3 separate regions of the Homo sapiens genome follow, and all the other regions are linked to region 3. The links come from fine-mapping of genetic effects on gene expression. A gene starts in region 3. Each other region holds a variant in brackets. All regions are shown on one strand. Distances are between the middles of the regions.

Region 1 (4,226 bases), 23 kb before region 3:
TCTTATGAGCAATGGGAAACATTGGGTATACTTAAAGAGAGAAATAACAGTCAGGGGGATATTACTGTTACAACAATTACTCTAGTAGCCAGTGTGTGGGGCTAATCGTGAGTGAGGAAACAGGAGGCCAGAAGGCAGGCCTTGGAGGAGGCCTGGCAGGGATGCAGATGTAACCTGTCTGAGCCAAGTGCTCCTTAGAGCCTCCTTGCCAACCCTCCTCCTGTTCCATCCTTCCCATTGTCCAAGAACCCTAGACCCTTGCTTGGCTCATTCTGATAGGGCTGGCTGGACTGTGCAGACTGTTGCTACTATCCCAGGGCCTTGAAGAAAACTAGCCAAGCCCAGTTGCATTTATGGCCACTCCTGAGCAATGCTCATGATGGTCTATAGGGTCTAACCCAGTGGTTCTCAACTAGGGGCAATTTCCCCTCTTCTCCTAAGGACATTTGGCCATGCCTGGAGATATTTTGGTTGTCACAACTGGGGGTGAGGTGCTACTGGCATCTAGTGGGTAAAGGCCAGAGATGCTGCTTAACATTCTACGTTCACGGGACAGCCTCCCTGAACAAAAATGTATCAGGCCCAAAATGTCAGCAGTGCCAATGTTGAGAAACTCTTTTCTAGATTAGCACTGTCCAGCGGAATTTATTGCAGTGATTGAAATGTCCTATCATTCTGCACCATCTAAGGTAACCACGAACCACATGCGGCAGTTGAGCCCTTGAAAGATGGCTAGTTGGGATTGAAGAACTCAAGTTTCAAGTGTATTTCATTTTAATTAATTTGATTTTTGTCTTAAGTAGCCACACGTGGCTGGCTAATGGCTACTGTATCAGGAGCATGCTGCATCAGATCTGCATGCTCAGCAGGCTGCCAGCAGTTCCTGAGGATAACGTCCTTAGTTTACACTCTCTGGCTCCCGCATTTTCCCCAGAGCACATCCTCTGGGAAGAGGGGCTACCAGCCAGAGCCACCTCTGGGCCAGACCAAAACCACAACCCAGACTTGGGGGTTGAGCACAGCTCAAGGTATGTTCTCCTGGGGCTTCCAGCAGACCTGAGTCAGGCCCATCTCAGACTGCATCGCTGAACCTCAGATGTGAGAAAGAAGCTTGGCTCTTGAGGCCTTTTTTTTCCCCCAACAGACCCCTACTTTGCCACATTTTCTCCCAGTCACCAGCTCTGGAATACTGGGAGGTGCAGCCATGATCAAACCTCAGAAAAGGTCCCTTGGTTCCTTTCTTCTGGGAGAGTGAGCTCCTTGGTGTCCCTTATTCCATTACTAAGGGGGCTCCTTTCAGAGACTTTTTCCAGGAAAGAAAAAAAAATCGGCTTCAAGATGACTTAATGTCCCTACATAGGCAGAGAAGACACTGACAAATTCAAACAGCCATGTCTCTGGCTTAAAAAAATTTAAGTTATGCCTAACAAGGCACAAACCTTAGACAGAGAAGAATATCAGATAAGGCTTGAATGCAAACTGTGGCAGTGGCATGGAGCAGATGTGCATACTGGATATGCATGAGTGATGGTGGAATGAATAAAGCATCATGAGGTTTAGAATATTCTTCTTCCCCTTTTAGAAATGAGGAAAGTAAAGCTCAGACAGGCTAAATGACTTCCCCAAAGTAACAGGACAAGTATATGGAAGAATCAAGATTTGAACCCAAGTTGATCAGGCTCCAAACCCCACACTCCTTTTTATTCTTTTTTTGAGATGGGGTCTTGCTCTGTCACCCAGGCTGAAGTGCAGTGGCCTGATCGCGACTCACTGCAACCTCTGCCTCCTGGGTTCAAGCGATTTACCTGCCTCAGCCTCCCAAGTAGATGGGATTACAGGTGTGCACCACCACGCCTGGCTAATTTTTGTATTTTTAGTAGAGATGGGGTTTCACCATGTTGGCCAGGCTGGTCTCAAACCCCTGACCTCAAGTGATCCATCCTCCTGGGCCTCCCAAAATGCTGGGATTACAGGTGTGAGCCACTGCACCTAGCCCAAACCCTACACTCTTAACCACGGAGGCACCTGTGGGAAGGTGTCTGCAAACTGAAAAGGCAGGGCTGTCCAAGAAATCTCCTGAAGTCACTTGCCCAGGGAAGGATCCCAGATTTTCTGGAGGCCTAGACAGGCTATGATCC[G/A]GGCCTACAGCATCCCTAAAACATCCAAAGAAGAGATGAACAGAGATGCTCTCCTGTTCTGCTTGGGAAGGCAGCCATGCCACTAATTGGCTTCAGGGATAAAGATGTGGTAGGGGGATGGCTGTTTACTTCACAGTGGGAAACATACATTTCAATTTGCTTGATCAAAATCCAGTCTGGTGCTCTGAGGAGACTGTGGGTTGGGGCGACTGGGGAGCTAGCAGGGACAGGCACTGGGCTGGGATGGCTGGGAAACGGCTCAGCTTCAAAGTGTTTGCAGAGATTCCTAATTAAAGAACAAGTCCACAAAGAAGGGAGTTGAGTCATGTTTAGGAATTGGAATGTGGACTGCTGCAAATCTCCATGTTGAAAATTAATCCCCTTTCTGGCTCTAAGACAATGTACTTTGGTATTTTCTTAGATGACTGTGGCTTTACCACTATTATCCAATGGGGCTCTCCAGAGTTAAAATGCATGTCCTGGAGCAAGGATGGCAAACACAGAACAAATATCTGCTAGCTACTACCCCGCACCTGTGACAGACATCACTAATCAATCAAAGCACACTTTCCCATGAAGGCTAAACAGAGCTTCAGAATTATTTTTAAGGCAGCACTTCAGACAGCCACTAACAATGGAACCAAATTGAAACATAAAACAAAATCTATTTGCAATGCCTGCCCTTGAAGTCAGGTATGGTCTTAGAGGACAGATAGATCTTGCTTAAAGTAAGTTCACTAGACCAAAGTTTCAAAAGTCATTGTGATGCTGTGTTGGGCCCAATAAAAGACTGGGCGAACCCATAGTCAGGAAACTAGCGAGACTCCAGTTCAGTCCGTCCTTTCAGTTACATCTTGTGTTTTCTCTTAGTTAAGTGATCAACCAAGCCTCTACTTGACCAGCTCAGTGATGCGGAACTCACGATCTTACAAGGAAGCCTATGACTTTTTTTGGTCAGCTCTGAACTATAGGCCATGAAGTCAGCTGGCCCTGGGTCCTGGCTTGTCCTGTTCTGTGACTCTGAGCAAGCCACATCATCTTTTGTCTATAAAGTGTGGGGAAGTCCTGCCTGGTTCAGGGAGGTGTGATGTATAACTGAATGTATGTTAAAAAAAAACTTGCAGAATGCAGGCCGGGTGTGGTGGCTCACACCTGTAATCCCAGCACTATGGGAGGCCGAGGCGGGTGGATCACAAGGACAGGAGATCGAGACCATCCTGGCTAACACGGTGAAATCCCGTCTCTACTGAAAATACAAAAAATTAGCCAGGCGTGGTGGTGGGCACCTGTAGTCCCAGCTACTCAGGAGACTGAGGCAGGAGAATGGCGTGAACCCGGAAGGCAGAGCTTGCAGTGAGCTGAGATTGCATCACTGCACTCCAGCCTGGGCCACAGAGCGAGACTCCATCTCAAAAAAAACAACAACAACAAAACAACTTGCAGAATGCTTCACATGTGGCTGGTGCACAAAGCGTACAGATCTTCATGTCTACATTGTGCCCAGATCTGCCTTACTGAAGCTTCCAACGCTGGTTCCTTGGGGACCCCAGAATATGTCTGCTTCCTCCTCCCCTTGACAGCCTGGCAGATGTTTAAAGACACATTTGAACACAGAGTGTCACACCTTTTCCGGTTCCTTCAACATTTACAGAAATCTTCTGTCTAATGCTCGCTGCCTCTGTACTTGCTCTTAGCATGTGCATCAAACTCTCAGGTTATCTCTGACCATACCTGGGCAGCAGGACTCTCACCTCCCTCCTTCTCTACACTAGACACCGATTCATTCATTCACTAATTCATTCACACGTTCGTTCACTTGATAAATACATCACCAAGTTCCTGCTAGGTCTCAGGCACTTCGCTAGGAACAAGGAATACAATGATGAACTCAATAATTGATACAACTCCCCTGCCCTTTGTTGCTGAATTCGGGCATTGTTCTGCAAATTCATAGATTCCAGAAATATTTAATTGTGTATGTTACCCTGCAAGAAGTTGTAGATGTAGCAGAAAATAAGGGTAATGTGGTTCCTGCTTTTTGTTCATTCAACCTCTTAACAATTATTTATTAATTTGAGCAGACTTGAA
Region 2 (4,226 bases), 67 kb before region 3:
GAGTCTCGCTCTGTCACCCAGCAGGCTGGAGTGCAATGGTGCAATCTTGGCTCACTGCAACCTCTTCCTCCCAGGTTCAAGTGATTCTCCTGCCTCAGCCTCCCAAAGTGTTGGGATTACAGGCATGAGCCACCACACCCGACCGCTGTGAGCTTCTTTTAAAAGCAGAAAAGATTGTGGCCTCACATTTTAGGATGGAGTACAGTGGAGAAAATAGTAACTGAGGGGTATTTATGATTTCCTGAAAGGTCTCAGTTTTTTCTACAGAGCATGAAGATGGCCTGGTAATTCTCTCATGGCTCTTGGGATCTCAGTCACTCACTTGTCATGTAGTTTTGTCCTGTCCTCTCTGATTGTCCCATGGGTGCAGGGAGCAGCAGAGGGCTGTGGGTGGAGCATGGGGCTCGAGATCAGGAGACTCGGGTTAGAATCCCAGCTGGGCCAGAAAACCCTTAGGAGCCACGGGTTCCTGTTCCCATCCATCTTCTCCCATAGTGGCCATGAGGACCAATCCTGTGAACAAATGGGCACCAGCGTGCTCCTGTAACCTGGGATATGCTATTAAGAAGCATCCCAAGGCTGGGCATGGTGGCTCACGCCTGTAATCCCAGCACTTTGGGAGGCTGAGGCGGGTGGATCACCTGAGGTCGGGAGTTTGAGACCAGCTTGACCAACATAGAGAAACCCTGTCTCTACTAAAAATACACAAAATTAGCTGGGCGTGGTGGTGCATGCCTGTAATCCCAGCTACTCGGGAGGCTGAGGCAGGAGAATCGCTTGAACCTGGGAGGCGGAGGTTGCAGTGAGCCGAGATTGCGCCATTGCACTCCAGCCTGGGCAACAAGAGTGAAACTCCGTCTCAAACAAAACAAAACAAAACAAAACAAAGAAAGAGAAGCATCCCAGAGTGCCGGGCGTCTTTTTAGGGTGGGGAGGGGCAGACAGTCAGGAAGAGGCTGGTGCTCATAGACCGTGACCCTGGGCCTGCTTGCTCTTTGCCATTCCACATACACTTGGGTTTTTCATTTTCATGGGACTGGGCATTCAGGCCCCGTGTCTAGCCAAAGGCCTGAAGGGTGGTTGTCCTTGAAGTGGTAATTGCTTTAATGGCAAAGGGGTTTGCAGTGTACTTTGTAAAAGCCTCGGCCACAGGAGCGTGGAGGCTGCATGTGACACACACCATTCAGGCCTCTGGCTCTGCCATAAACCACTCCAGCTCCAGGAGTGTAGTAGCGGGGAGCAGGCAGGGGTGCCCAGTCCCAAATGCCATATCAAGATGCACACCTGGAGCTGAGCCCCGGCTGGGCTGCACTCACTGCGTGATCCTGAGTAGGTCACTTGTCTTCCAGGAACCCATCTTCTCATCTGTAAGTTAGCCCTCACATCAAAATCCCAAGAAGATACAAAGGCGGAAAAGTAATCATGAGTGTGAAAGTGTCTCGTAAGGTAGAAAACACTGTCCAGACTTAAGGAGTGGCTGTCAAGTCATTGCCTGACCCACGTAGGCCATTGCCAGGTCGTAGAGAGCACCTGTTGGATCGTCTTGGCCACAGTGGATGAGCCCCTGATTCAACCTGTACCGGTCATGGGGCTTCCCATGGTGTCCACTGCCCTGGTCAGTGTGCTTAGCTCAAGGTTGGGCACTAAAGGTAGGCTGTTTTCCTGGGAATTTGGAAGACATCCTATCCTTGCTCTGGCCATCTCTTTAAAAAAGCAGAATTCAACCCAGCAGTGAGAGAGACCTGTGTTCTGTCTTGGGGTCTGGGGAGCAGAGAAACCAGGCATCTGTGAGAGAGAAAAATTAGGACGGACAGAGAGGAGCACAGAGGAGGGGTGCAGGGAGAGTCCAGGGGGCTTCATTCCTCCTCCAGCTATTTATGTCTTCAGGCCCAGGTGCTTCCTACCTATGGGTTCTCCAGGTTATCCTTGTGTCCTCTCCTTGTATAAACTCCCTCTTTACTCAGGCTGCAGAGGGTCTTCGTTTATTTCAAGGAAAAGTCCTTCTAACTTCTACAGGGCCAAAGCATGCATGTATCATATTAATGTCAA[T/C]CCTGTGCCAGACCCTTTGTAAAATTAAGTACTTCAAACTTAAAATAATTCAAACTTAAGGCTGTTGGAACATTCCGTTATTCTGAGCCTTGAGAGGAATGTGGCTATGCAGTCTGAGTCATGCAGCAGGCAGCTGCAACTTCTGCCTTTTTGTTTGTTTGTTTTTGAGATGGAGTTTCACTCTTGTTGCCCAGGCTGGAGTGCAATGGCACAATCTCGGCTCACCGCAACCTCCGCCTCCTGGGTTCAAGTGATTCTCTTGCCTCCCAAGTAGCTGGGATTGCAGGCATATGCCACCACGCCCAGCTAATTTTGTATTTTTAGTAGAGATGGGGTTTCTCCATGTTGGTCAGGCTGGTCTCGAATTCCCAACCTCAGGTGATCCACCCGCCTTGGCCTCCCGAAGTGCTGGGATTACAGGTGTGAGCCACCATGTCCGACTTTTTCTTTTTCCTGTAAATAATTAAGACCAAATGGTGCCAGAGATGAAACCATCTCAGATAACTGCCCTTCCTCACGGAGTAATAGTCTTCCTTGGAACGTATTAATAGCAATCTGTAGCGAATCAAATTGCTGTAATGTGTGTACTGCTCTTGTATGGAAATTGCAGTAATTCTGCTAACATCTCTCTGACTCTGCCTATATCAGTAAAACCTTAACTTTTCCACTTTGGAACTCTGACTTCATTCGTTTGAAGTCAGTGTCTTCTGGGCAGCCATCTTCCAGCTTTGTGCTGAAATAAACTCCATACTTAATCATATTTTCTGAATCTCATTATTTAATGTTGACAGCTCTTAAGCGTCTTTAAACTTTTCCATGGATGTTAAATATACGTGCATTAAAGTATGTAAAGTGTATCTCAGGTACACAGCTGGTTAGATTTTGTGTACGCCCATGAAACCACTGGTCAGATCAAGACACAAACATTTTTAGCCTCCAGAAGGTACTTTTCTACCACTTTCTGATCAGTTACAAAATCTCTTCCTTGTTCAATTCCCACCTATGAGTGAGAACATGCAGAACACAGGGACACAGGAAGGGGAGCATCACACACCAGGGCCTGTTGTGGGATGGGGGGAGGGGGGAGGGATAGCATTAGGAGATTCACCTAATGTTAAATGACGAGTTACTGGGTGCAGCACACCAACATGGCACATGTATACATATGTAACTAACCTGCACTTTGTGCACATGTACCCTAAAACTTAAAGTATAATAAAAAAAAAGAAAATGAAATGAATTAAGTTTTAAAAACACAGTAGGCTTTCAATAAATGGTAGCTGTATTTCTTTGGTAGGAAAAAAAAAATCTCTTTCTTGAGGTAACCACTATTCTGACTTATCTAAACAGACATTTTGGGTATGGTTATACATTATCTCACTGGTTCTTTTATATTAAAAAAGCTAATTATAAAATGTTTCAAACATTCAGAAAAGCACAGAAGATAATATGATACCTATGAATCGAATTTCCAGATTTAATAGAATTAAATATTGTTCATATTTGCTTTTCTTTCTTGTCTTGCATATCATATGTCTAGGTGTGGATTTACTTTTTTTAAAAAGAAGTTTTGTTAGTTTCAGATTGAAGAAGTCTGAGGATTCATGTCTTTCATCCGTTATGGAACATTCCAACACATTCTCTCTTCTGTGTTTGTTTATTTTCCCTAACGTTTGTTGAGAACTATAGCACACATATAGAAAGGTCCACAAAAGAAAGAAGTATAGCTCCATATTTTATTGATAATGTATCACAAATTTATCACCCATGAAACTGCTTCCAGGTCGAGAAATAGAGCATTGCCAGCATTCCCAGAAACTGCCCCAAGCTCCTATCCCATCAAAATTAATCATCATTTTTTAATGGCAGTTATTCCCTGGATTTTCTTTATAATTTTACCACTGAAGGATGCATTGCTAATGCCAAGGTTTATTTTTTTCTGCTTGCACATGTCTTTGTTTTTGGTTTCCTGAGCAACTTTTTATCCAACGATCTGTCATTCTTTAAGATCAATTAACCCAGGATCATTAATATCTTTTTTTTTTAGTAAAACTTTCTTTCTGCACTGTTAATATTGTAGTTAATTTATTTAGGGATATGCAGTTTTTAAAAGTAAGATTTTTAACACTGCCACCGACAGTGTAAAAGCATTCTTATTTCTCCACAGCCTCACCAGC
Region 3 (4,226 bases):
GATTATTCTGTACCAAGTGTCTGCTGCTGCAGATGGACACTTCTGAATAGCAGCTGCCGGGAAATGTCTGGCTTCCCAGAGGAGCTGGGCTTGAATTCCCCTGGGCTCAACTGGCTGTGAGCCTTTTGTGATCACCCACCTGAAAGCCTCATCTGTCAAATGGGCACATGAAGGCATCTATAGACTTATCAGTTTTAAGTGGGACAATGGGTACGAGAGGGCCAGGGCTGGCTTCATGGGTATGAGATCTGTGAAAGGCTCTGAATTCTGTGCTCAGAAGGGACCCGTACTGGTTTAATATCCTCCTTTTATCTCTCGAAATTCTTGATAGTGTTTTAAAAGGGGGCTCCATTTTTATTTTAGGCCCTTCAAATTATGTAGCTGGTCATGGAGAGGGCTTTGCAAACCAAACAGCATTGCGAGACTGCACAGTGGGTTGCTGTTATAAATCGTAACGACACACACATTCACATTCTGTAAAGGATATATATGTGAAGGGGGCTTTTCTGCAAGGTTGGGACTCTGAGGCAGCACAGAATTCGTCTCTCACTTACTGTATCCTCTTCCTGGGCTTAAGGATATTAAATCCAGGTGCCCCAAGACCTTCAGAGCATTCTGCCTTCATGCGGATGGTGCAGACTCTGTTCTAATTCTGCACTTGGCCAGACATAGCTATGCAAACTGCAGCGAGTCTCTTCCCGCTCTGGGCGCCACCTGACTGACCCGCGTAAGGAGGGACTGTGACTGGTCCCCAGGCAAACGCTTTCCCTGCCACCTGCACCTGTTGCAAGCCAGCTCCTCGGAGCCAGGCCAAGCAGCTCTGCCCCTAGCGGGAGTCGGAGGCATGAAACTCCCTTTTAGGAAGACGGAGTAAGAGGCACCACCACCTGCTCCTGCTGCCTCTGCTGTCCTCAGCTTCTGGGAGCATCTTAGCAGCCAGCTCCGGGTGAGGACAGGGTCCACCGGTGCACATGGCAGAGCAGGGCAGATGCTGTGACTTGGCGGCTTTGGGGGAACAGGGTGGGGCTCCTCCCTGGGAAAAATCTTTAGGTTTGGATCCAGCCTTTATTTAAAGAGGGGGATTGTGTATAGACTTGTGTGACTGTTCAGCCTCTTTCCACCTCGGTGCGTGTGTGTGTGTGTGTGTGTGTGTGTGTGTGTGTGTGTGAGAGAGAGAGAGAGAGAGAGAGCCTGTGGGTCAATGCCCAGTATGCCCCTCTGAGAGTGTGTCTGTTAGTAGACACCAGTGTGTGACATTGCTTCTGTGGGCAACTATGTCAAGGCGTGGGTTTGTCACTGTGTGCGGTGTGGAGCAGTATGATAAGCCGGCGGCCGACCCCCGAGTGTGTAGACGCGGGAGCTGGTGTCAGGGTATTTGTAGGGCTGCAATTCTGTGTAGGTCTGTCTCAGATTGTGTGAGAGTGTCTGTGTTCCAGCAGGTGCTTGTTTCTGAGTGTGAATGTGTGTGAAGCTGTGACCGTCTGTCTCTAGCTCTGCATGGGACGGTGATCCGGTGTGTGTGTGTGTGTGTGTGTGTGTGCGTGCGTGTGTGGTGTGTGTGTGTATTAGAGTGCACTCTAAACTGTGTGGCTGTGTGTGTACGTGTGCGTGCCTGTCACAGTGGCCCAGTCTGCTTCTGGGTGAGTGGGGCAGAGCCCAGAGAGTGTGTGTGTGAGTGTGGGTGTCGGTGTCTCTGGGAAGCAGTGATTCGGGATGTGTGTGTCAGGCAGTGTGCGGCTGTCGCTGTGAGTCTGCATGGGAGAGTGGCGGCGTGCTCTCCTCTGCGCGGCAGTGCCCCGTGTGTTTGTGGGTCTGTGTCTGGGTGTGAGCGTCATGGTGCGTGTGTTAGAGCCCGTGGGGCCCCGGTGAAAGGCTGTGGCTCTGGGTGACTGGTGTGTGTGTGTGTGTGTGTGTGTATCAGAGTGGGTGGCGGCGTCTCTGCTCGGCAGTGGCGCGTGTGGCCCGCCCCGCGCGCGTGTTCTCGCGGGCCGGGGCAGGGCGTGGGCCCCCTCCGGCGGAGCCGCGACCCCTCCCCCGGGCGGCGGGAGGTGCGCACCGGCGCCTCTAGGACCCGGCGGCGGCCGGCCGCTGTCCCCGGGCCGCGCGAGTGAGCATGTGCAGAGCCCGGCGCCCGCTCGCCCGCCCGCTGCCCGCCCCGGCTCCGCGCCCGCCCGCCCGCCCCGCCGTTCAGCCCGGACGCCAGCAGCCCCGGGGAGCCAGGCGGCGGCGCCCTGTGCCCGGGCGCGTGGGTCCGCTTGCCGCGGGCGGCCGGAGACGTGCGGGCGCCGGGGCTTCTGGGCTCCGGGCACTGCGGGGGGCTGCGGGCTCGGCGCCCGGGGAAGGCGGGCCATGGGCGCGGGTGCGGGCGCCCCAGCCGGCCGCGATCGCGGGGTGAGTCCTGTCTCTCGGCGCTCCAGCCGGACCCCCGCGCGGGCTGCGAGCAGGGTGTTCCCCTTGCCGCGGGCAAACAAGTTTGTGCAGACGCGGTTGGGAGCGCGGCGGGGCTGCACCTGCTCCGGCTGCAGGGCGGGCTTGCCGGGGGCACCTTCCCGGGGGCCCGGGGCGGCTCGGCCGGGGCAGGGGAGAGTGAGCGGGTGCGTGCAGGGGTTGTGGGGGGGCGGGGGCGGCGCTCGGCGCGGCCGGGATGGGGTGGGGGTGCGCGAGGCGCCGCACGAGCCGCGTCCCCCTCCGGAGTCCTGAGAGCCCGTCCGTCACCCGGGAGGGCGCTGCGGTTGGTCCCGGGGAGGGGGCGAGGGCAGGGTGTGGGGTGCGCACAGCTTCCCTCCTAGGCGGCGACGTTTACCCAGAAGCAGCTCCCTCTCGTTCCGCTACCAAGAGAGGCTTCCGGTCAGCGGAGGGTTTGCTCCGTCTCTTGGTGAACTTGAACAGAGGCAGAGGCAAAAGCAAAACGTATGTATTTTGTCCAGAAAATTACCTAGTGTAGAGCTTTGCGTCTTCGTAGGTGTGGACGGAGACTCACGACTGAAGGTTGCTAAATTGCGTTTTTCTTGGCTACTCAGGAGCGTACGTACCTGGCTGGGTCCCCTGCCTCCGGGTAACCTCGCTGGTGGTTTTCCTGAGCATTTGTGCGCCTGGGATGATGCCTGCTCTGCTGATCGGGAATGCGGGTGGGGAAGGGGACCGCTCTTCCTTCCGCTGAGCAGTGGGAAGGCTCATATAGGAGTTCTAGCCTCATAGCCCTGCACTGGGATCCAGCTGCTCCCCACACTGGCCCTGCCCCTGCAGCTCCCAAGATGGACAGATGCAGGACTCCGCTGTACTTTTCTAACATGAGATACCCGCATCCCTCTTGTTGCTGGAACAGCATGCTTAGGTTTATGGAGGCACTTGGTTTATCCCACTTTGGCATCAGGAGTGGGGGCCTTTCTTTTTTCCTCTGATTTGCCTAGGTTGTCAGGCACAGAAAGTGAGGGTGGTGGGGAGTGAAAGTTACAGGAGATATAAAGCTGGCTTGCCCTGCGCTGTTTGCAATCACCCACTCCTGGTGGCTGCAGGTGCTGGGGAGAGAGCTAGGGGAGGTTTCCTTGGGCTATGGGAGAATGAGGTTTGTCTCTCTCAATCATGCCCCCACCCCCACACACTTAGATTGGCCCTCAGGAGATCCTCCGGGAAGGGGCCTCAACCGGCTGCCAGAGCTCAGGGTTTCTAGGAGGAAGAGCAGGAGCTCTCCCAGGCATGGGATCTGAAGGAGGCTTGGCGGTGGTTGGGCTGGTGGCTGAGCCTGACTGCCTCATCTTCTCCGCCAGAAGGCTCTCACCTGTGGCTGCATCCTCCAGGCCTCAGCAGGGCCATTTCCACAGCTCCTCTGTAAAAATGCCTTCTTCTGGGGTGAGGGGATCCCTCTCTTCAGTGGGCATTGTGCCCTATGGGGTACTGCCCTGTGGCCTGTGGCATGTCTGGTTGGAAGTGAAGAGAAGCTGGGATAAGGCAGAAGGCCAGACTCCTGTCTCTTCCTCCTGTCTTCCTAACCGAGCAGAAGTGGATATTCAGTGCCACTAGTGGGTCTGCTGCTGAAGCTTGAGCCTCCAACCTGATCAGTTTGGCCAGAGCACTGGGGAATGAGTCACAGAGCTGGTTCCTTATGGCATCAGCCTGAGCAGGCGACTCAGAGCCTCTGAATCCAGAGCCTCCAGGCCCTGATGGAACCCCTCCGAGCAGGGCCTCTAGGGAAGTGGTGTTTCTCATTATAGAAGCTCCAAGCTTGT

Which allele goes with the higher level. Alleles are on the strand shown, and positions count from the first base shown. SD is a standard deviation of normalised expression in the study named.
As copies of A replace G in region 1, the expression in stomach of the gene that starts at base 2,118 in region 3 goes up (small effect, 0.28 SD a copy in GTEx).
For the expression in aorta of the gene that starts at base 2,118 in region 3, C is the high allele of the variant in region 2 and T is the other (small effect, 0.29 SD a copy in GTEx).

Evidence for each region. PIP is the estimated chance that this variant, and not a neighbour inherited with it, causes the effect. A credible set is the group of variants that fine-mapping cannot tell apart.
Region 1: its variant is the best candidate, but not a certain one, in a credible set for the expression of WSCD1 in stomach (GTEx, PIP 0.59).
Region 2: its variant is the best candidate, but not a certain one, in a credible set for the expression of WSCD1 in aorta (GTEx, PIP 0.74).

The regions. Positions count from the first base shown.
Region 1 is chr17:6,045,630-6,049,855 of GRCh38, forward strand. No RefSeq gene overlaps it. Among named protein-coding and RNA genes, the nearest start is that of WSCD1, 23 kb to the right of the region's middle. The variant G/A (reference allele first, on the strand shown) is at 2,139.
Region 2 is chr17:6,001,249-6,005,474 of GRCh38, forward strand. No RefSeq gene overlaps it. Among named protein-coding and RNA genes, the nearest start is that of WSCD1, 67 kb to the right of the region's middle. The variant T/C (reference allele first, on the strand shown) is at 2,050.
Region 3 is chr17:6,068,262-6,072,487 of GRCh38, forward strand. WSCD1 (WSC domain containing 1) reads left to right here and starts at 2,118. Exons shown (of 9, transcript NM_015253.2): 1 at 2,118-2,391. RefSeq lists an enhancer at 1,354-2,185.